Linked DNA regions of Homo sapiens: all the other regions are linked to region 4. Evidence: fine-mapped expression QTL. A gene starts in region 4. Each other region holds a variant in brackets. All regions are shown on one strand. Distances are from middle to middle.

What was found. PIP is the estimated chance that this variant, and not a neighbour inherited with it, causes the effect. A credible set is the group of variants that fine-mapping cannot tell apart.
Region 1: its variant is the best candidate, but not a certain one, in a credible set for the expression of ETFA in whole blood (TOPMed, PIP 0.76).
Region 2: its variant is the best candidate, but not a certain one, in a credible set for the expression of ETFA in activated CD8 T cells (Schmiedel 2018, PIP 0.78).
Region 3: its variant is the best candidate, but not a certain one, in a credible set for the expression of ETFA in whole blood (INTERVAL, PIP 0.82).

Annotation. Positions count from the first base shown.
Region 1 is chr15:76,390,705-76,396,210 of GRCh38, forward strand. All of the region lies in intron 27 of SCAPER (S-phase cyclin A associated protein in the ER), which reads right to left. Among named protein-coding and RNA genes, the nearest start is that of ISL2, 57 kb to the left of the region's middle. The variant C/G (reference allele first, on the strand shown) is at 3,231.
Region 2 is chr15:76,348,047-76,353,552 of GRCh38, forward strand. SCAPER (S-phase cyclin A associated protein in the ER) reads right to left here. Exons shown (of 32, transcript NM_020843.4): 31 at 3,191-3,242; 32 at 1-690. The coding sequence ends at 587. Among named protein-coding and RNA genes, the nearest start is that of ISL2, 14 kb to the left of the region's middle. The variant T/TTGTG (reference allele first, on the strand shown) is at 2,320.
Region 3 is chr15:76,699,578-76,705,083 of GRCh38, forward strand. It overlaps SCAPER (S-phase cyclin A associated protein in the ER), which reads right to left. Exons shown (of 32, transcript NM_020843.4): 19 at 3,273-3,425; 20 at 2,181-2,288. Among named protein-coding and RNA genes, the nearest start is that of MIR3713, 120 kb to the left of the region's middle. RefSeq lists enhancers at 1-254, 255-755. The variant C/CA (reference allele first, on the strand shown) is at 2,600.
Region 4 is chr15:76,308,537-76,314,002 of GRCh38, forward strand. It overlaps ETFA (electron transfer flavoprotein subunit alpha), which reads right to left and starts at 2,933. Exons shown (of 12, transcript NM_000126.4): 1 at 2,814-2,933. The coding sequence starts at 2,852. RefSeq lists enhancers at 2,185-2,685, 2,686-3,186, 3,396-3,445, 3,506-3,555 and a cis regulatory region at 5,117-5,466.

The DNA of each region.
Region 1 (5,506 bases), 82 kb after region 4:
AGGACCCTGTGCTGACACACTGGTTTGGCTAGTTGATACTTTGGGGCTCTCTTTACAGTTTGGAAGTTGGGCTGAAGGAGCTCTGCCAGAGGCTATGTTGTGTTGCCAAGTAAAGGTAATTGCTTCTGCTGGGAGGGTAACTGGGAGGAAAAAACTGTCATATCAGGTGCTGCATTAAGATTCCAGTACCCTCCTAAATGATCTTTCTGGCTTCCACTCTTGCTTCTCTAATCCATTTTTCACAGAGTAAACAGATGCTTTTTTACTTTTTAAGCCACTCTCCTGTTTAAAATCCTCCAGTGGCTTCCACTCACACTTAAGAGCAGAATTCAGATTTCTCACCTTTCTGTCCTCATCTCCTGGCCTTTACTTATTGACTTCAACTTCTACCACTTTCTTTCTGGCTCTTCACATTCCAATATATCACTTTCTCTGTTTCTGGAACATCCACTTCAAGGTCTTGCCATTCTTCTCAACTAGAATACCCTTTGCTTGGGTCTTTACATGCCTGGTTCCGTCTTAGCTTGTCATCTCCCCAGAGAGGCCGTTCCTGACCACTTCGTCTGCAGAAGCCCTTGACCAAGACATTCGGCTATATTACCAGGCTTTATTTTCTCATGTCACTAGCTAAAATAATCTTATTTGTATATTGGTTGATTGTTTTTTCCCCATTAGACTGTAAATTTCATCAGAGTGGTATCTTGTTCATCAATCGATCCCCAGTACCTTGACAAGGTCTGGGACATAGCACATACTCAGTAAATAGGTATGAGTAAATATTTGCCAAAGAAATAGAAGGAAGAAAGGGAGAACTGATCTTAGCAAGGCATGCCAAAGGAATGAAGGCCTTGGATGCCTATTTCCTAACTCAGAGAAAGAAGAACATGAGATGTGGGCAGTCCTTCTTCTTATGTATAGAATAGGCCCAGGAAATGGGATTCCGACATAGGCCAATGATCGTTCACTAGTATTTGCTAGCTCTACCAATGAACAGCTGTTTCTCAAGTTCTTATTTTGTTTTGTTTCAGGTGCTATGTGCCTGACGGGAAGCTGCTAGGATATTTAGCTTCTTTCTCTAGGTAAATACTTTTAACTCTAGACACAAACCATGTATACAAGGAAAGAGAAATAATGAACTGCACGTTGACAAATACCAAGTAAGTGGCATAAATGGTATGTTCCATCTCATATTTCAGAGGAAAACATCCCTTTGATGGAATCAAATAGGACTGGATTGGATTCTGGGAAAGAAAAGTCAAAGATGACTAAGGCTTTGGGTCTTAAAATCTACTCAGATTGCTGGAATCATGAGCAGAATAAGGCAGTCAGGAGGGACAGCCAACTTTGGGTGAAAGCCAATGAGCTCAGGATCTAACATATTAAATATAAGTTCCTGGTAGAAATTGCCAGTAGGAATTCCAGGAGGAAATGTCTATCATGGCCTTGTTATGAATATGGTTTGGGCCTTAACCTTACTTGCTGTGGCTTGATTTACCTTTCCTGCCTATCTCCTTTTAATTTTTAATTAAAAAAATAACATATATATACTTCTATAAGCTATCTCAAGTTTTTGGAACAAAATGTGTTATAATGAATACAAGAATATGTAAAAAATAGCATCTTAGACAAGAAGTAAGAGTGACAGATGTTAGCCCCCATTTACTCCTGTCATGTCCAACCCTGTGAGGGAAGAAGTAACACATTCATTTTCATATGTGAACAACAGGCTTTGAAAACCTAAAGAACCAGGGCTAGGCATGGTGGCTCACGCCTGCAATCCCAACACTCTGGGAGGCTGATGCAGGAAGATCACTTGAGCCCAGGAGTTCGACACCAGCCTGGGCAACATAGGGAGAGCTCGTCTACACACACACACACACAAAGCAAAATCAGAGAATTAGTGGAACGCAGCAGTGCATCCCTGTAGTCTCAGCTACTTGGGAAGCTGAGGTTGGAGGATAGATTGAGCCTGGAGGATTGAGGCTGCAGTAAGCCGTGATCACTCTTCTGCACGCTGCCACAGGTCACAGAACTGAGAAAGCTGAAACTGAGCCCACATCTTTCTGACTTCCTAACCTTTGCTCTTCAACATAATATTACACACAGTTTTCCTCTTGAGATCCTGCCTTCTCAGTCTCCTAGAGCCAGTGAGAATCTGGCTGCAAATGTATCCTGGACACATTCTGCTCCTCTAAACCCTGCATGTTGAGGCCATCATCCCTTGTCCCCTGTGAGAATGGTAAGTCAGTGGAGACTGTCCTAAACTTTGGCCCTACGAGCTGGGGCCCAGCCAGTTCCCTTTCTGCCTAGCACATAGTGAGCACTCATGTGAACTGTACCAATGAAGTTGTCATCTTTCCATTCCTTCAAGTAACTAGGGCTTTATGTCAGCTGGGATGGATCTTTCGGAAGTCCCTCTATTAGCACTTTGCCATTGTGAGTACAGAGACACCCCAGAAGTTCCTGCTTCTGTATTCTTCCCATTCTCTAGATCTGAAGGATAAGGACAGTCACTCCTCCTTATTAGTCTAGTGGCTGTTTTAACTCCTTTGACAGCGTGAGCAGGACTCTTGAATGCTTGTAGGGAGATAGCCCACATGAAATACTCAGCTCAGGGTGTATCAAAGGTGCTTAACAAATGTTACTTCTTTTAGTTCCACTTGCCTAGTCCTGTTACATTCACTTCATTGCCTATCTCCCAATACCAACAAACCCTTTGTCCAAAGACAGTAGCTAATGACAACAAAATATTTAGGAATGGGCTGACAGTATCAAATAAGAGACTGCAGAGAGAATAGAAGGCAGCTGAGAACAGGAGACTGGGAACTCATTTATCTTTAGGGTAGGGTGGAAAGTAGCAGGCTATATTTTTCAAGTATAACCACAGCAACATTTCTGGTCCCCTATGCTCTTCTAGAACCTTCATCCTCCCCAGGAAGAGGCAAAGTCTATTTCTCCTTTTTTTGAAGCTGGATGGAACTTCATGACTGCCTTGGTGAATAGAATGTAGTGCAAGTGATGCTGTGTGATTTCTGAGGCTGAGTCATAAAAGGTGATATGGTTTCTAGCTGCTCTCTCACTGCCAGGATGCTTGTTCTTGGAACACAGCCACCATGCTGTGAGGAAGCCAATTAAGCCTATGCAGAGACCCCACATGGAAAGACCCCTGGCTGACAGCCAGCATCTACCACAGATGTGTGAATAAGCACTCAGATGATTCCAACCACCAG[C/G]CTTCAAGTCTTCTGAGGCCCCAGACATTGTGGAACAAAGATAACCCATCCTCTCCGTACCTTAAAAGAATTCCTGACCCACAGAATCTGTGAGATTAATAGATGGTTGTTTTATGCCACTAAATTTTAGGGTAATTTGTTGCAGTTATTGTAACCGTAACAAGAAGAAAAGCAAAGGAAAATATGAGGTACCGTGAGACCAGGGGAGTTCAGGAAGAAGAGTAGGTTCATATTAGTCTGCATGTTGCCAAGGAGCAAGTAGGCCTTATACTAATAGGTAGCACTAGGGAGACAGATTTCAGCTTGGTATAAGGAGAGATGGTTTAAGCAACAACAACTCAAGCTCCCCTTAGTTAAGTAACGAATTTCCTGTCACTGGAGGTGTTCAACAGAGACAGAGAGGCTTACTGAAAAGATTCAAACCTGACTGGAAGACCAGATAGGGGACTTTAAGTTTCCTTTCAATCAACAGAATGTGGCAGTAGATTAGATCTGGGGTATCAGGAGGAGAGATTAGAGATGATGAGGTTTGGAGCTTGATGCCTGAGAGACTGGTGATACCATACACAAAAAGAGTGTCTATGGGAGGGTTTTTCAAAACATTCTTCTTTCCATTCCTTTCGTCTCTTACCTGGACAACTGTTAATGCCCCTTGCACTTTCCACCTTCTAATACATTCTTCACACGACACTTGACCAGTGCTCCCAAATATGGTTCTTAGCAGGTCACTTCCTTGCTCAAAGGCTTTAAAAATTCATTTTATGTTTTTAAAATTTTTGTGGGTACACAGTAGGTATACATATTTATGGGATACCTGAGATATTTTGATACGAGCATGCAATGAGTAATAATCACATCACGGAAAATGGGGTTATCTGTCTCCTCAAGCATTTATCCTTTGTGTTACAAACTATCCAATTATATTCTTTTAGTTATTTTAAAATGTACAATTAAATTATTACTGACTATAGTCACCCTGTTGTGATATCAAATATTTAGTCTTATTCATTCTAACGCTTTTATTTTTTTGTACCCATTAACCATCCCCAGCTCTCTCCCACCCACCCACTACCCTTCCCAGCCTGTGGCACCCATCCTTCTACTCTCCATCTCCATGAGTTTGTTTTGATTTTTAGATCCCACAAATAAGTGAGAACATGTGATGTTTATCTCTCTGTGCCTAGTTTATTTTACTTAACACAATGACCTCGAATTTCATCCATGTTGTTGCAAATGAGAGGATCTCATTCTTTTTTATGGCTGAATAGGACTCCATTGTGTGTATGAGTACATTTTCTATATCCATTCATCTCCTGATGGACACTTAGGCTGCTTTCAAATCTTGGCTATTGGGAACAGTGCTGCAACAAACATGGGAGTGTGGATATCTCTTTGATATACTGATTTCCTTTCTTTTGGGTATATACCCAGCAGTGGGATTGCTGGATTGTATGGTAGCTCTATTTTTAGTTTTTGTAGGAATTTCCAAACTGTTCTCCATAGTGGTTGTATTAATTTGCATTCCCACCAACAGCGTATGAGGGTTCCCTTTTCTCCACATCCTTGCCAGCATTTGTTATTGAATGTCTTTTAGATAAAAGACATTTTAACTGGGATGAGATGATATCTCTTTGTAGTTTTGATTTGCATTTCTCTGATGATCAATGATGTTGAGCACCTTTTCATATGCCTGTTTGCCATTTGTATGTCTTCTTTTGAGAAATGTCTCTTCAGATCTTTCGCCCATTTAAAAATTGGATTATTAGAGTTTTTCCTATAGAGTTGTTTGAATTCTTATATATTCTAGTTGTTAATCCCTTGTCAGATGGGTACTTTGCAAATATTTTCTCTCTTCTGTGGATTGTCTCTTCACTTGATTGATTGTTTCCTTTGCTGTGCAGGAGCTTAACTTGATGTGATCCCATTTATCCATTTTTGCTTCGGTTGCCTGTGCTTGCAGGGTACTATTCAAGAAATTTTTGCCCAGTACAATGTCCTTAAGAGTTTCCCCAATGTTTTCTTGTAGTAGTTTCATAGTTTTGAGGTCTTAAAGTCTTTAATCCATTTCGATTTCTGTATATGGTGAGAGACAGGGGTCTAGTTTCATTCTTCTGCATATGGATATCCAGTTTTCCCAGCATCATTTATTGAAGAGACTCTTCCCTAATTTATGCTCTTGGCACCTTTGTCAAAAATGAGTTCACTGTAGATGAATTTGTTTCTGGGTTCTCTATTCTGCTCCATTGGTCCATGTGTCTGTTTTTATGCCAGTACCA
Region 2 (5,506 bases), 40 kb after region 4:
GGATTATCTGCTAGGAGAGTTCGGGCAGACCAATGAATACAACGCCCTAAGTTGATTTCAAATAGCCCCCAAACATATTATGTAGTCAGAATGCAAAAGTGTTGCAAATATCTTTACCGTAGACCTTAAAAAGTTAAATTTAGAGCAGGTAAACTTTAATTAAGTCTTTATTTAAGATACTTCAAGAGCTGGAGTTAACATTTTTCTTTCAGATTCGTATTTCCTTAACATGAAAAGTCAACAATGAAAACAGAATAAGTTACTTTATTACAAGAACAAAACAGACTTGCTAATTTTATGTCTCCTTTCACCCATATCACAAATGCAAAGTATATATTATCATAAGATGGAAATTACCAAACTCCAAGATACTCTGCATAAATGAAATAAACTCAACTTGCAAAATTAGCAAGTAGAACATTCAAGTATCTACAGTCATTATAAATAGTGTAAAGTACATGCCATATCTACAGTGTGGGAAGAGTATAAACATGGGAAAATGAGTTCTTAAGGAACAATTAGAATGTTTGTTTGGACAATTTAAAATATTAACAAGGGTACTCAAATACAGAATCAACCAAAACATTTATTTTTTCTCTTTTTTCAAGAAAAACTGTCGAGCTTCTTCCCAGGCCTGCTGAGGAAATCTGTTAGCCAGCTCAAGATAGTCTTGGGAACCAAGGCATTTCCCTGAGAGGGGGATAAAAGAGAAAAAAGTTAAATAAAAGAGGGTTAAATTCTTTGAAGATTCATAAATTAAACTTATTTTGATATCTGAGTATAAAATGGAGATATCCACTTCAAATAAACCATGACACAATTTAGGTAAATAAGGTGATTGATCTATATGTATCAATCTATCTGTAGTATAAAATATATGACATATATTTTAACCACAATCCAGTTTGTCCTTTAACATATTCAGACATTAACCCCTATATAAATTACAAAAAGATGTTTTTGGACTCCACAATGAGAAAAAAATTAGCAACCAGGCAAGCACAGTGGTGCGCGCCTGTAGTCCCAGCTATTTGGAAGGCTGAAGTCGGGGGAATGCTTGAGCCCAGGAGTTAGAGGCTATAGTTTGCTATGATCGCACCTGTGAGTAGCCATTGCACTCCAGGATAGGCAACATAGAGAGACCCTGTCTCAAAAAAAACAAAAAACAAAAAACAAAAAAAAGAACAAACTAAAATGACAGTCCTATATTCTATCCTTAAGTTAGCCATGAAAGGGGAAAACTGTATGTAAATGATGACGTTTTCTGAAAGTCTATTTAATTTAAAACATGAATGTAGTTTTAAGTATATCTTTAAAATTATTCAAATATAGCACAGCCTATCTAACAAAGCAGTAGGAATGAATGATAGGAGCTTTACTGGCCAGTGACATAGGTAAAGTAAACAATTGCAGCTAGACAGGCAGTAGGTATTTGAAAACCAAAATTCTTCCTGGGCAATAGGAATGTGGTATTACCAAGAGCTGCTTTTATATTTAAAGGTTTACCTGGACAATGAACTCAAAATATCTTGAGACATTTTATGAGGACTTAATCTAGGCAAAAGGGGAACAAATACCCAAGGTGCAAACTGGCAACTTAGGCATCATCATTAAAAAAAAAATCAAGCAACATATTATGAGCTGTCATTAACATAGTGATGACCCTTTCTGAGCAAAGGAGAGACCAATTCCCCCTTTGCTGTTCTGTGGGTTAAGCCTACTGTAACTGGGGGAAAGCATGAAAATCAGGGAAGATGGTCCCTTGGAAAAGAAAGAAGGTTGAGACTTCCACAGGCCTCAGTCCACCAAGCAGAGAGAGGCAGCTTCTGGGACTGTGTCTTCCAGACAATGTAACAAATTGTGACTCATCTTTATGATCAGGAGAAAGAGTAAGAAAAAAATGCTTATACTTCTTAGTGGCAAACAAAACAAAACAAAACTGCTGTACAATTGAAAATAAATACATTAGATTTTTCTAAGCATTTTAATTTATTCAAAATGAAATTGTTTTGTAAGAACAGTAACACATTTTGCTGATTTCTCCCCAAGTATCCTCCAGTAGTTAAAACAAAACAAAACAAAAAAAGGGCTGTGACTGGGTCAGGGCAGAACTGAACTTGCAGACTAATTCTTGCTCAGACAAATGGTACCGACAAGGATGTGGACTTGAATTTCTGAAAAGTTGCATAGCTTTCTGTTTAACTTTTCTGGGTGCCTGAGTCAATAAAACGTCTTTTTTTTTTCTTTTCATGATATTGTAATAGCTTTAGTTATATTTTCTTCTGTGCACTTTTCAACACCTGTCCACTGTAGAGGACT[T/TTGTG]TGTGTGTGTGTGTGTGTGTGTGTGTGTGTGAAAGAGTCCAAGGTAACACCCCCACCCCCACCAAGTAAGGGTTTCTTGGTGGGTGCCCTAAAGGGTCCTGCTGGGAGTGTACCTCTAAATGGCCACTTTAAAGACTATCAAACTAATGGAAGAATTGAAGAAGATCTGGATTAGGTTCTCATTCATCAGAGATGCTGTCATAACACCCAAAGAGCAACTTGTACTTCTCAATTACAGTCTGGGTAGCAGAATATTTAAAAAAGTAAAAATGTGGTAAAAATTCTACATCTCTAACTCTGATCACAGCAAACACCCCAGCAGGAATGCTATAGGAAAAAAAAACAACTTGTAAATCTTTTGCCCTGGACTTTGCCAATTAGATGACTTTTTCTCCATGTAAAACAATTATTTTCAAAACAAAAGTTCAACTACTTGAACTTGGGGGGAAACTGTGGGCTACTATTACTGATAACTTTATTCTGAACATGGATAAGGAACCAAACCTATGTGATTTCAGCATTTATGTGAGAAATGTGGGCCAGTATTAATGATCTGGCTCCTGTATTACAAAGCGGCTCTTTAGTAATTATTTACCATTTAATATATCTTGCATGAGATGATTATAAATTATACAAAGATATTTGTGCTTTTCTTTTACTCCCACAGATTTCTATACATATTTGGATGCATTCATGCTTCATGACAAAATCGATTTCTTTACTTACTGAAATATACTTGGTATCTGAATCTCAAATATTTTTAGGTTATGTATAAAATTTTACATATAATGTAGCAGTTCCAGAGGAAAGGATAAGAAAGATGTCCATTTGGCTAACAAACACATGAAATTTAATTTCAATAGAGACATACCTTTGGGTTGGTAAGGCTGGTTTTCCGCTTGACCTGGAGTCTGTGCCAAATCCTGTATGAGGAGAGAAAAGTGTTTTTCTATCAATGCTATGAACAGAGAATTTCACTAAGGGTGGCTTTAAATATACTTCTGATTCATGCAACCACTTTTGTATGAATATTTTGGGGCCCAAATATAAACGCTGAAGAAACTGATGTTACGTAGTGCAGGTTCTCATAAATAGTAATGACTTACATCTTGCTAAATTATCACCAGGGGACAACTTGCTGCCTACTTTGGAAATTACAACTTTTTATCTAATAAAACTAAAATTTAAGCCAAATTTACTATCTTAAAATATCAACAGGTGTTGATCATTTTTTTAAAAAGTACAAATATGAAAGCTCTATGTATTCTGCAGCTAAATCTTAAAGTCTGGTAATTTTGCATGTAGATGGAAAATGAAAAATGTAATATAAAATATGTAAATCTTCAGAAACCTAAGACAACCAGCTGCTATTTTAATATCATTTTCTAGTAACTCAGTTATAATGTAACACATAAGAGACCTTGAGGAACCACATTATAAACTAAAATCCTATCTATATTCATTCTCTTGAGCACAATTATTTATAGAAAAACACTTGATTTAACTCTACAAGTCTAATATGCTATCTGAAATAAACAATATAAGAAATTTTTTTTAGCATTTACAAAATTTATGTTACAGATTTTTTTTGTAAGACAAAGGTAGACTTAGTACTTTGTGATCAATATCAGATAAACACAAGAAATATATATAATCTTTAGATCCTGATATCATTTGTATCATTATAAGTCATTGTCTATGCAGTTGAAAACATAAGGAACTAAGCTGATACAGATGTGAAATTGGTTTCGCTCAAACATCACTGTCTCTTTGTTGAAGCCTCTCTGCCCACATCATAAAAACCTGCACATCATCTCCCTGAAGTCCCTAGCTCCTTTTCCTGCCTTACTTTTCTCCACAGCACTTATTGCCATAGCACTTAGCATAGTATCTGACATACTATTTGTTTTACTAATTTTTTTTTTGTCTTTTGCTTGACTCTTCTCCACTTTAATGAAAGATCTGTGAAGGCAGGAATTTTTATCTGTTTTATTTGTTGCTGTATTTGCAGTGCCCAGCACACCTTACACACTCAAAAATTACCTGTTCAATAAAAGAATGAATAATCTGAATTTAGAAAGAGCACACTCTTAAAATTATCCATAATGTATTTGTATTTTCTTTTTTTTTTTTTTTGATGGAGTCTCGCTCTGTCACTCAGCTTGAAGTTCAGTGGCATGATCTTGGCTCACTGCAACCTCTGCCTCCCAGGTTCAAGCTACTCTCCTGCCTCAGCCTCCCGAGTAGCTGGGATTACAGGTGCCCACAGAGACGGCGTTTTACTATGTTGGCCAGGCTGGTCGCAAACTCCTGACCTCAAGTGATCTGCTCACCCCGGCCTCCCAAAGTGCTGGGATTACAGATGTGAGCCACCACACCTGGTCCATAATGTATTTTCTATTTAATTTAATCCTAAGGCTCTAAAAATATATGAAGAATCCTAAGTGTTGATATGATGTTATATACTGTAAAATTTTCTTAAGATATTAACTATAAGACAGTTTTTGAAATCCATATTTGTAGATCTAAATATCTAATTTAACTTTTTTTCCAGAAAATAAAACGTAGATTCAAACAGAACAATTAAGCCGAAAACAAAACTTTTCTAACATAATTGATCTAGTTGCGTTTATTAATTATCTAATACAGGATAGTTTGGAAAACATAAACTTTGAAATGTTGTCTAAGATGAAGAGGGCTCGGGGAACTCCTTAGCTATCCTCTAGTTCCCAGCCAGCTGGGTACTATCATATCCTTTTGACAGAGATAGATGTATATTCACCAGAATATGGAAGAATACTAATACAGAACTCTGCTTTCTGTTTCATTATTCTGAAGACCAGAAAGTACTGTCTACTCATCACATGTGTGTCATGGAGCAAAAACACATCTTATGGTGGAACATGTGAAAGAAATGGGAGATTTTCAGCAAATAATGCTCTATAATGACAAAAAGAAATTCACAGGATGAGTTAGTTAGTAGCAAATGTTAAAGCATAGTCAACTTGGTTTTTCAGCTGACTAAGTTAATTTAGATGTGGAAATAGTACTTTGCTATGGCACTAATTCTGATTCTAGCCCTACAGAATTTAAAATATAAGGCTGTACTTAAAAGTTGTTTTACATTAAAAAAATCAATATAACAGGTTTTTATTTTATACATATAAGAAAATCATATTTATTTAAA
Region 3 (5,506 bases), 390 kb after region 4:
CAGTGAACTGGCTCTGCTTCTGGATGATTTCAGCAGCGCTGGACTGCATGCCCTGGGGGACTGAGACCAGGCCCATGGCTTTGCTCTTAGGCACCTCAAAGTTAAGCACTTGCTGCGCTGGAGTGGCTAAGGTGTTCCTGGTCCGCTGGCAACAACACTTCAATGGCGGGCGCTGGCAAAATCACTTCATCAACATGGTGGTATCAGGTTCAAGTGCACAGGCTAGCAGTCACAGGTTCCACATGCACGCAGTTGCAGCTGGCAGAGTGTGAACAGTATTCGCACACTGGTGATGGCAGGGCAATGGCAACGGAGTCCATACCTGCACCGGTGCCAGTAGCAGCATGGTGGCAAAGTCCATGCAGCTGCCAGAAAGTGGTGGGGAGAGGCTGTGGGTAGTTGCACGCCAGCAGGGGCCCATCCACAGAAGCTCTCCGATGGTCAGGCAGGGTCTCCTGGGGTAGGAGCTACGGTGGCAGCCACCTGGAAGCACCTCGTTTGGGCATCCAAGTCCGCACTGCAAGAAGGCATGGCCAGGCAAGGACCCTGAGAGATGCCATCAGACCAGAGTGCTCGGATTACACTGGCCCTGTCCCACTGTCAAGACAGCCCTGCTGTGTGCAGGTCTGACGGACAATAATGGCCAAAGCCACCTAGAGGAACACAGTGAGACTTGAGGGTTGAGCATCTCTGGCTGCCCTCCACAGCAGCTGTTCCTGTGTCAAACCCTCTGGACTCTTCACAAGCTGGACTCCAGTCCCTGCCACCTCTCCAAGCAATTCTCCCTGACAGCTCAAATGTCCGTGGGGGTCATGGGGTCTCCTGCAGCTAGGATTCCAGAGGTCCGTGGTGAGAGTGGACCACTCCTTGCTTAGTTAGCCACCTCTTCCTCAGGAGAGAGTCCTGGTGCTCTACAAAGCCAGGCAACATTCCCTGCTTTCTCTTGCAGCTTCAGCCCAGGGTGTGCCTTCCCTTCCTCTACTCTCAATGCCTTCCTTAGGAAGATCTGCTCAGAGTGTGCCAGCCTTCTTGATGGTCTGGTCTCTCAGTGGGAGATGCTCTTCCTGGCTGCATCTAGTCAGCCATCTTGGCTCTTCCTGTTTCCCCTTCTTTTAACAAGTCATTAAATAAAATACTATTCAACTACAGACATGTTCCTGATGCTACACAGGAGGGCACTGACATAAAGCTAAGAAGAATAACTACAGCTTCACATAAACAATAGGGATCACTTTCACAAGCTTAAGCATGAATGTATGAAGTCAGGCAGAAAAGAATACATACTGTATGATAACATTTGTATGAAATTTAAGAACAGGCAACACTAAATAATGATACAAAAATTCACAGTAGTTAACTTTTGGGGACATAAGTAGGAGGGGGCATAAGAGGAGCCCAAAGGGTACAACAAATGATCTATATTATGATCTGGGTGGTTTTATATCAGTTTATACATATGTAAAAATTCATCAGCTATATACTTGAGATTTATGCTCTTGACTAATGAATGCCATACCTAAAAAAAAAAAAAAGTTCAATATACACATGCACCTACATAAAGGTACCTGCCCTCAAAGAACCCACAATAACTTTTCCTGGACAGCTTGAGTTGCTTAACAAATATGAATTTCTTATTCTTGAGTAGTTTTAAAAATTTACTATAATAAATAGGACAATAAATTCATAGATTAGCTATATCATCCAAGTTTCAAAAAGAGTTAAATGAAAAATATTCATATACATATTTATACAAATCTAAATTCCATGTTGACAATAATTATGTGTGAAGAAATAATGAATTTCCAAAAGCTTCTAAATGGTATACTGATCCAAAATTATCCTCTTAAGTGAAATTTATGTGGTTAACTGTTTTCCAAGAATGTGGCATGTCATTGAGTGATTATTTTCCTGCATTATTAAAATATCAATATACCATAACATTTCCTTATACTGAAATTATGTAAATAACAGCATTAAATTCTTTTTTCTATCTTTCTTGTTAAATTAATATATACACTAAAATAATGACACATTTGTACACTATATTGTAGTAGCTATTAAGTGCTAAATATAGTTTTAAATAATCATAGAAATAAATACAAACACGGAATTCTTTATAATAAAACAGCACATATTGGGTACTCAATAAACAATTGTAAATGAACAAAAATAAAGTTTACCACTTCTTCATCTGACAGTTCACGCCCCTGGATGCTGGTATTCTCTCTCACGGCTTGCTGGTGTTTTCTCCCTTTAACATGGCTAAAAAGATATACCTCTGAAGAGATCTGAAAGCACAAAATCAAAGCAATGTAATCAATATAACATTATATGAATTTTAAACACTACACATTCAGTCCAGTATATGATATGTGAGTTGAGATCCACCTAGTATTTACATATTAGTCTTAAAAATAGTTTCCTCAGAACATAATTCTGAGAATCCTCTAGAAGGCAAATGGTTAAAAAAAAAGACTTGGGAGGCTGAGGCAGGAATATCGCCGGAACCTGGGAGGCGGAGGTTGCAGTGAGCTGAGATCGTGCCACTGCACTCCAGCTTGGGTGACAAAGCGATACTCCATCTCAAAACAAAACAAAA[C/CA]AAAAAAAAGACATGTTACAGCCAGCCTAAGAGGAAATTATTTCCTCTAAGTTTGAAGGTTCAAGTCTCAGCAGTGAAAATGTTGCTTTTTTTTTAGATCTAATACCCCAAAAATACTGACTTGGGCTATCACATTAAGCAGGTAATCATCCATTTTAATAGTAACTATATTCTTGAGCACTTTTACTGCTATTCCAAAATGCTGATGTTATTTGTACCACTTTTCATTCAGAATCATGAAAGAAATCCAGGTCACTCAGCAGATGCCTTAGCATGAGTTTTATTTTTTGAAACAGAGTCTTGCTTTGTCACCCAGGATGGAGTGCAGTGGCATGATCTTGGCTCACTGCAACCTCCACCTCCTGGGTTCAAAGGATTCTCATGCCTCAGCCTCCCGAGTACCTGGGATTACAGACATGCACCACCATGCCCAGCTAATTTTTTGTATTTTTAGTAGAGACAGGGTTTCACCATGTTGGAAAGGCTGGTTTTGCACTCTTGGCCTGAAGTGATCCGCCCACCTCAGTCTCCTAAAGTGCTGAAATTACAGGTGTGAGCTGCCACATCTCGCCTGCCTTAGCGTGAGTTTTAAAAGACTGCAAGAATATATTTCCATGGTTTCATAAACTTTAGTAGTAAACTATATCATTACAATATTGATATAACAACCTACCAGGACATTGCAGAGAGAACACTGCTTCTTTCTTTCATAAGGGGTCAGTTTGGGGGCATAATCAGTATTTGCATGTCGCCCACTGCTTAGCTCAGCAGCTTTTTCTTTTCTTTGTTCAATCTGTTCCATGTGCCTTCGAATACTTTCATCATGCTGTAGATGAAGTCAAAGTGCAAGAATTTCAAAAATTATTCAAATTATGGTGAGAAATTGGAAAAATAATATTTCCATTAAAACTTCAAAAATAATAGAATGTCGTTTCTATGACAACTTACACACTGAAGACAAAGCTTTACACAAAGCCCTTTAATATCACCCACATGAACAGTAATGTTTATTAAAGTGTGCTCCAGGAGATATTAACAAGTGTTTTACAGAACAGGTTCCATGGTCAAATAAATTTGGAAAACAGCAAGCTAAAACTAAACAGGTTTTTAATGTAGAACTTTACAGAACCTCCAGTACGTCACTGTGATATATGACTCAATGCACCTAGCTTTTAGTAGGCATCAACTTACAAATTATTTGCCAATAACACATTTTTGAGAACCACTTCCTGGAACCCACCATGGGAAATGTTAACCTACGGGTAAAGCATATGCTTATCCATACAGCAGGCAAGGCCCATCATGACCAAACCTATAACCTACTCCATTTTTATACCTCCAGTGACAATCCTGGGGGAAAAAACGCTATTTCAGACCTTTGTCCTTATACTCATCTATTTGATATGGCTAGAATGGCATCGCACCTACCTATCCATTTTACTCATCCTCCTTTCAAGATCCAGCTCAGGAAGTGTTCTTTAAAATCACTTCCTGACCTCTGACACTCCTCATATTAGACTAAGTGTCCTCTTCTGTGCTTCCACAGCATTTCATGTATGCCTCTCTTTATGTGGAGGTTATGTACTTAGCATCTGAATTTAAAGTAAATGAAGAGTTTCTTAAAAATCAGAACCATGCCTTATCTCTGCATTCCCCTGCCTACCACAAGGCTCAATAAATACCTGCTACAATAAATTTAAACGCATGATAGATTTCTAGGACTATACAAATAGTAAAATACAGTCTTCTACCTTAGGGGTTTTACTATCTCTGTGAGGAGCCAGCATGTAAATAACTGTGATATAATATGAAACATTCATACTGTTAGAGACTGCCTATGGTTGTAGTAATGCTAAAAATTTTCTAGAAAGTATCAGTTTATCATAATCTCCCAAGCTATAATTATACAATTCATAAGCACTGAAATCAAGTGAAGCAAATTATAAGAAACATCTTTTACTTTACTTTTGAGTGATTAAAACCTATGAATATAAGAAGCCTACCTCTAATGCCTTCAAGTCATTAGTAAATTGCTTAGTAAAAACAGGAAATGTTAGATGAGTAGGTTGCGAGAATTTTCTCCCATTTTGTAGGTTGCCTGTTCACTCTGATGGTAGTTTCTTTTGCTGTGCAGAAGCTCTTTAGTTTAATTAGATCCCATATGTCAATTTTGGCTTTTGTGGCCATTGCTTTTGGTGTTTTAGACATGAAGTCCTTGCCCATGCCTATGTCCTGAATGGTAATGCCTAGGTTTTCTTCTAGGGTTTTTACCGTTTTAGGTCTAATGTTTAAGTCTTTAATCCATCTTGCATTAATTTTTGTATAAGGTGTAAGGAAGGGATCCAGTTTCAGCTTTCTACATATGTCTAGCCAGTTTTCCCAGCACCATTTATTAAATAGGGAAATCCTTTCCCCATTGCTTGTTTTTCTCAGGTTTGTCAAAGATCAGATAGTTTCGCAACCTGCTCATCTGACAAAGGGCTAATATCCAGAATCTACAATGAACTCAAACAAATTTACAAGAAAAAATCAAACAACCCCATCAAAGAGTGGGCGAAGGATATGAACAGACCCTTCTCAAAAGAAGACATTTATGCAGCCAAAAGACACATGAAAAAATGCTCATCATCACTCTCCATCAGAGAAATGCAAATCAAAACCACAATGAGATACCATCTCACACCAGTTAGAATGGCGATCATTAAAAAGTCAGGAAACAACAGGTGCTGGAGAGGATGTGGAGAAACAGGAACACTTTTACACTGTTGGTGGGACTGTAAACTAGTTTGACCATTGTGGAAGTCAGTGTGGCGATTCCTCAGGGATCTAGAACTAGAAATACCATTTGACCCAGCCATCCCATTACTGAGTATATACCCAAAGGACTATAAATCATGCCGCTATAAA
Region 4 (5,466 bases):
CAAACCCAAATTGAGTGACAGTCTGGAAAATAGAAGGCCTGTACTCTTCAAATACACCAATGTCATCAAACCCAAAGGAAGGCTGAGGAACCTTTCTAACAGAGTAAAGAGACATGAAAACCACTTGCAGGACATCTAGAGTATCTTAGACCAGAATAAGGAAAATTGCTATAAACTGTACTAATGGGACAACTGGCAAAATTGAACATCCATAGATTAGAAAACAGTATTTTATGGTGAAACTTCCAGATATTGCCAATTACAGTGTAGTTAGAAAGTGAACCTCTTTGTTCTTTTAAAATATCACTCAATTATTTAGGAGTAAAGGGCACATTTGCAACATACTTTCAAATGGTTCAGAAAGATAGTATTATGTATATATGTGGAAAGATAAAGCAAATGTGTCAAACTGCTAACATGCTGGGAAAACCAGGGGAAGGGTTTTGAGATTTCTTTGTACTATTCTTGCAACTTTTCTATAAGTGCAACTATTTCAAAATTTAAAAAGTTAAATACAGGTATATGTCCCTATTAATATATGGGTCCACTTTAGAAGTGTTGCCACCATTTCTTTTATGCTAGAAATCCAAATCTCTCCAACATTCTTAATGACTTTAAAACAGCTATTCTAGGCTGGGCGCGGTGGCTCACGCCTGTAATCCCAGCACTTTGGGAGGCCAAGGCGGGCGGATCATGAGGTCAGGAGATCGAGACCATACCGGCTAACACAGTGAAACCCCCGTCTCTACTAAAAATACAAAAAAATTAGCGGGGCGTGGTGGCGGGTACCTGTAGTCCCAGCTACTCAGGAGGCTGAGGCAGGAGAATGGCGTGAACCCGGGAGGCGGAGCTTGCAGTGAGCTGAGATCGCGCCACTGCACTCCAGCCTGGGCGACAGAGCGAGACTCCGTCTCAAAACAAACAAACAAACAAACAAAAAAAACAGCTATTCTACTTAGCTTGACTTCAAATTTTAAAAATAAGTCAAGGTCAAAGTCTTTGGCAAACCACAATGAATATCTGGAAGTAATGTCTATACACATTAGCCAACGATGTGGATAGTAAAAATTACTTAATCATTCCATTTTTTTCTGTTAGCTCTACAAAATTACTGAGTCCTAAATTCCATCCCCCACCACAATTATAATTTCACTTAGGCCAGACTTGTAATCTGTCCACAAAACTGTTTTCCAACTGCTGCATAGAGCAGCATTCTTCTGGCTCAGGTTCCTGGAATTTCCCCAAATTCATGATTTTCACTTGTTTATGTCTAGATCCCCAACCGGGAGAAAACATGTCCTGAGGGGAAGACAGGACACTAACCTGAAAGACATGGGTTTGAACTCTTTAGGGGAGGGGAGGGTCAGAACTTTTTATTAAACAAGGAATACGCACAAGAAAAAAGATGTCTAAGGCCAGGTGCGGTAGCTCAGGCCTGTAATTCCAGGACTTTGGGAGGCCGAGGCAGGTGGATCACTTGAGGACAAGAGTTCGAGACCAGCCTGGGTAACATGGGGAAACCCCGTCTCTACAAAAAAAAAAAAAAAAAAAAAAAAAAAATTAGCCAGGCGTGATGATGCGCACCTGTGATCCCAGCTTCTCGGGAAGCTGAGGTGGGAGAATCGCTTGAACCTGGGAGGCGACGGTTGCAGTGAGCCCATATCGTGCCACTGCACTCCACTCCAGCATGGGAAACAGAGCCAGACCTTGTCTCTTAAACAAACAAACAAACAAACAAACAAAAGTCTAATGTCTACAGACATCTAGAAAGAGCTCCAGCTATGCCTCAGAGAGAAAAATCCCAGGAGTGGATGGGAAAATATCCATGCCCAGAAAAAAAAAAAAAAAAAAAAAAAGGAGAAAAGGTACAAACCATCAGGTAAGTTTCTGACCCAAGTTTACCAATCTTGTTTCTCATTTCACCTAAATGTAAACTAGGAAAACTACACAATCCACAATATAAATTATTGTTACTTGACTTGTGACTGGTCAGTCTCCAAATACTCCTTTCCCACAGCATGAGAAGGAAAATATGTTTCCTATCAGTCCTTCTCACAACAGAAGAGAGAAATGTGGTTTGTCACTAATGAAACACTGAAAATGTACCACTGTCACCAGTTAACCTAATCTACAATCTGCTGGTTAAAAGCAGGTCAGCCTGAAGCATATAAAAAGACGTCTGCCTTTCAAAACTGGCTAAAGCTGTCAAATCGGATCGCAGGTTTTACAAATACAATCACCTAAATTCAGCCCTGCTCCATAAACCAGAAAGCAGAACCAGCTTCCATAACTGGCCACGCAGCCTCCCACCCCACCCCACCCCCGCCCTTGACAGTGAGTGGGTCGGAGTAGCCACGATGCGCCCAAAGTGTTTAATTCTTCCAGAAATGCCGGCCTCCGGGAGGAATCTAGGTTTGAAACTTTCCCCAACAGGGCATTCCCCGGTGACATTTTGCTCCCTCGGGTGTGGAGCAAGTGTGGAGGACCTGGCGGCCCGAAAGTGCCCAGAGTGACCGACAAAGGTGGGAAACGGCAGGGCAGAGAGTGGGCCAGAAGAAGGGGCAGCAGACGCGCAAATTCACATCATTCGGGGTCACCCTGACCCCAAACCTCTGACTTCTGCCCCGAACTGGCGTTCCGCAGGGAGTCCAGGGTAGGCCCCAGAACTTTGGACCCAAGTCCCAGGCGGGGACCGGCCTGCGGGCGCGAGGGCTGGTCGAATCTGAGGGGGCCAGTGATCTTTGCAAGACCCCATAGGGACGGCGGGTTGACGGGGGGCCGTCCCTGGGTTCGCCTTCCCAGTCCGGACTCACCGCCCGCCGGAGCTGCCCCGGAGCCGCCGCTCGGAACATGGTCTCCGCTTCCGCCGCAACCTCGGCCTTACAGCAGCCCCGTGCCCGGCCAACTGGCGCCGCCTCAGCCAGTCACCTAATGCTCGCGAGACGCGCGAACGAGATAAGACGCCCTAGGCCGGGAGCACGAGCCCGCGGTTTCCGCCTGCCCATTGGGCGGCTGCGCAGCCAATAGACGGCGGGAAGTTAGGGGCTAGACTGGGAAGTGGGGCAAAGGTGAGGCTATTCCCCGGGGACCTTCGAGTAAGCCCGGGCCGCGGAGCGGCAGAGACAAAGCTGGCCACCCGCTGATGACCGAGCTCAGACTGTACTGTCTCACAGCCCCGCAATGGTCAGCACTGCTAGAGTGAACTTCAAAACTGAGCTGACCTCGGGGTAAGGTACGAGTGGAGCCTTGCCAATTCCAATTAGATACCTTTCCTATATGCCCCTATTTCCCCCTGTATTTCCCCATGGTAGCAATTGTCACATGGGTTGTAATAACCTAAGTACTTGTCTGTGTCACCCATCTGACTGAAGATCTGTAAGGGCAGAAAGTATGCCCTTTTTTTTTTTTTTTTTTTTGAGAGAGAGAGAGTCTCCCTCTGTCACCCTGGCTGGAGTGCAGTGGCGCGAGCTCAGCTCACTGAAAGCTCCGCCTCCCGGGTTCACTCCATTCTTCTGCCTCAGCCTCCCGAGTAGCTGGGACTACAGGCGCCCGCCACCACGCCCAGCTAATTTTTTTGTATTTTTAGTAGAGACGGGGTTTCACAGTGTTAGGCAGGATGGTCTCGATCTCCTGACCTCGTGATCCGCCCGCCTCGGACTCCCAAAGTGCTGGGATTACAGGCGTGAGCCACCGCGCCCGGCCAGTATGCCCTACTTTTAAATTTTGTGTCTACCTGCAACACCTAGCACAATGCCTGGTCCATACTAGGCATTCAATCAGTATGTGTTGAATGAATAAGCAAATGAATAAATGACTGCTAATGAGTCTGGACTTTAACACGAAATTTTTAAGAGGGAAGTGGTATGTTCAGAAATTGTCTCAATTCCCAATTCAGCAACAACCTACCTTTCCAATGTTATCTAGTCTATCAACAAATCCCGTTGACTCTACCTTCAAAAGATAACCAGAATCCAGCAATATCCTCCAACACCCCTTTGCTCCTCTGCTGGTATCACCTTCACTCAGGACCCTGTCCTCTCTCGCCTGGATCATTGCAAAGCCTCCTAACTGGTCTTTCTGTTTCTGCCCATGTTTCCAGAAGCCTCTTCTCCAAACTGATGGACTGATCATGACCTCTGCTCAAAGCCCTATGGTGGCTCCCTCTCCTCCCACTGCCCTCTTCTCTCACTGTTCCCCAGATACATAGGCCTTCTTGAGCACACAAGCCTGCTCCTCTCAGAGTTTTGCACTCTGGCTCTTCCCTCTGCCTGAAATGGCCTTCTCTTGTTACCCGCGTGGCGTACTTCCTCACTTCATTCAGGTCTCTGCTCAAAAAACACATTTGCAGAAAGGCCGGCCTTAGCCTCTCCACCTAAAATAGCACCCATGCCACTCCCAGACGCCCTATCACCTTGTTTGATTTTTTTTCTTGGCATTTATCACTGCCTAACAGGATGCACATGTTTGTTTATTGCTGATCTCACTGCATTGGAGTGTAAATTCCCTGAAGCAAGAGCTTTGTCTGAACTAACAAGCACTCTAAGGGCCTTGCGCTTTTGCTCTTCCCTCTGTCTGAAATTCCCTTCCCCATCTGACAGCCCTCTTTAAAACCCAGATCAAGTGACAATTCTTTTGTTCTGTTTAAGACAAGGTCTCACTCTGTTTCCCAGGCTGGAGTGCGGTGGTGCCATCACAGCTCACTGCAGTCTCGAACTCCTGGGATCAAGCAATCTTCCTGCCTCAGCCTCCCAAGTAGCTGGGACTACAGTCATGTGCCACCATGCCCAGCTATTTTTTTTTGTAGGGGCAGGGTTACCCAGGGCTGGTCTCGAACTCCTGGCCTCAAGTGATCTTCCCACCTTGGCCTCTCAAAGTACTGGGATTACAGACATGAGCCACCACGCCTGGCCCAAGTGACATTTCTTTTGTAAGCTCTTTCTCAATTCTGCAGGATGAATTAATCCTTTCCTCTTCTTCACTCTTGTAGCTCTATGAACAAGGAGGTGAGGACCCATCTTAAACTTAAGTTGCACCCACTTCGAACACGTCTGAACTCATGTTGCCGACAGAGCTGTGGACCCCTGTCCCCCAGTCAATCTGCCTGTGGGAGGGGCAATTTAGTATTCCATGTCTCACTGCATTTACCTCCTAACCAGTCCCACACTGGACTAGAATCTGAGACCTATGGGAGTGGAAGGAAGAGGGAAGGGTACTTTTAGTAAAAACAGAAAAGGATATTTTACTAAAAACCATATAAAAAACTGGGATACAAACTAACCTCCTTCCCTACCTCCCCACCCATGACAAAGCGAAATACAAGGGGAGAGCGGCTGCCCCGCCCTGCCCCCACTGGGCAGATTCAACAGCTCCCAGGCTTGGGCAAATCAGCAGCAGCTGTTCACCCCAGAGTCTCGTTGCCCCTGGGGGTTCCTGGTGGAGCAGTTCAGAGCAGAGGGAGAGGCTAAA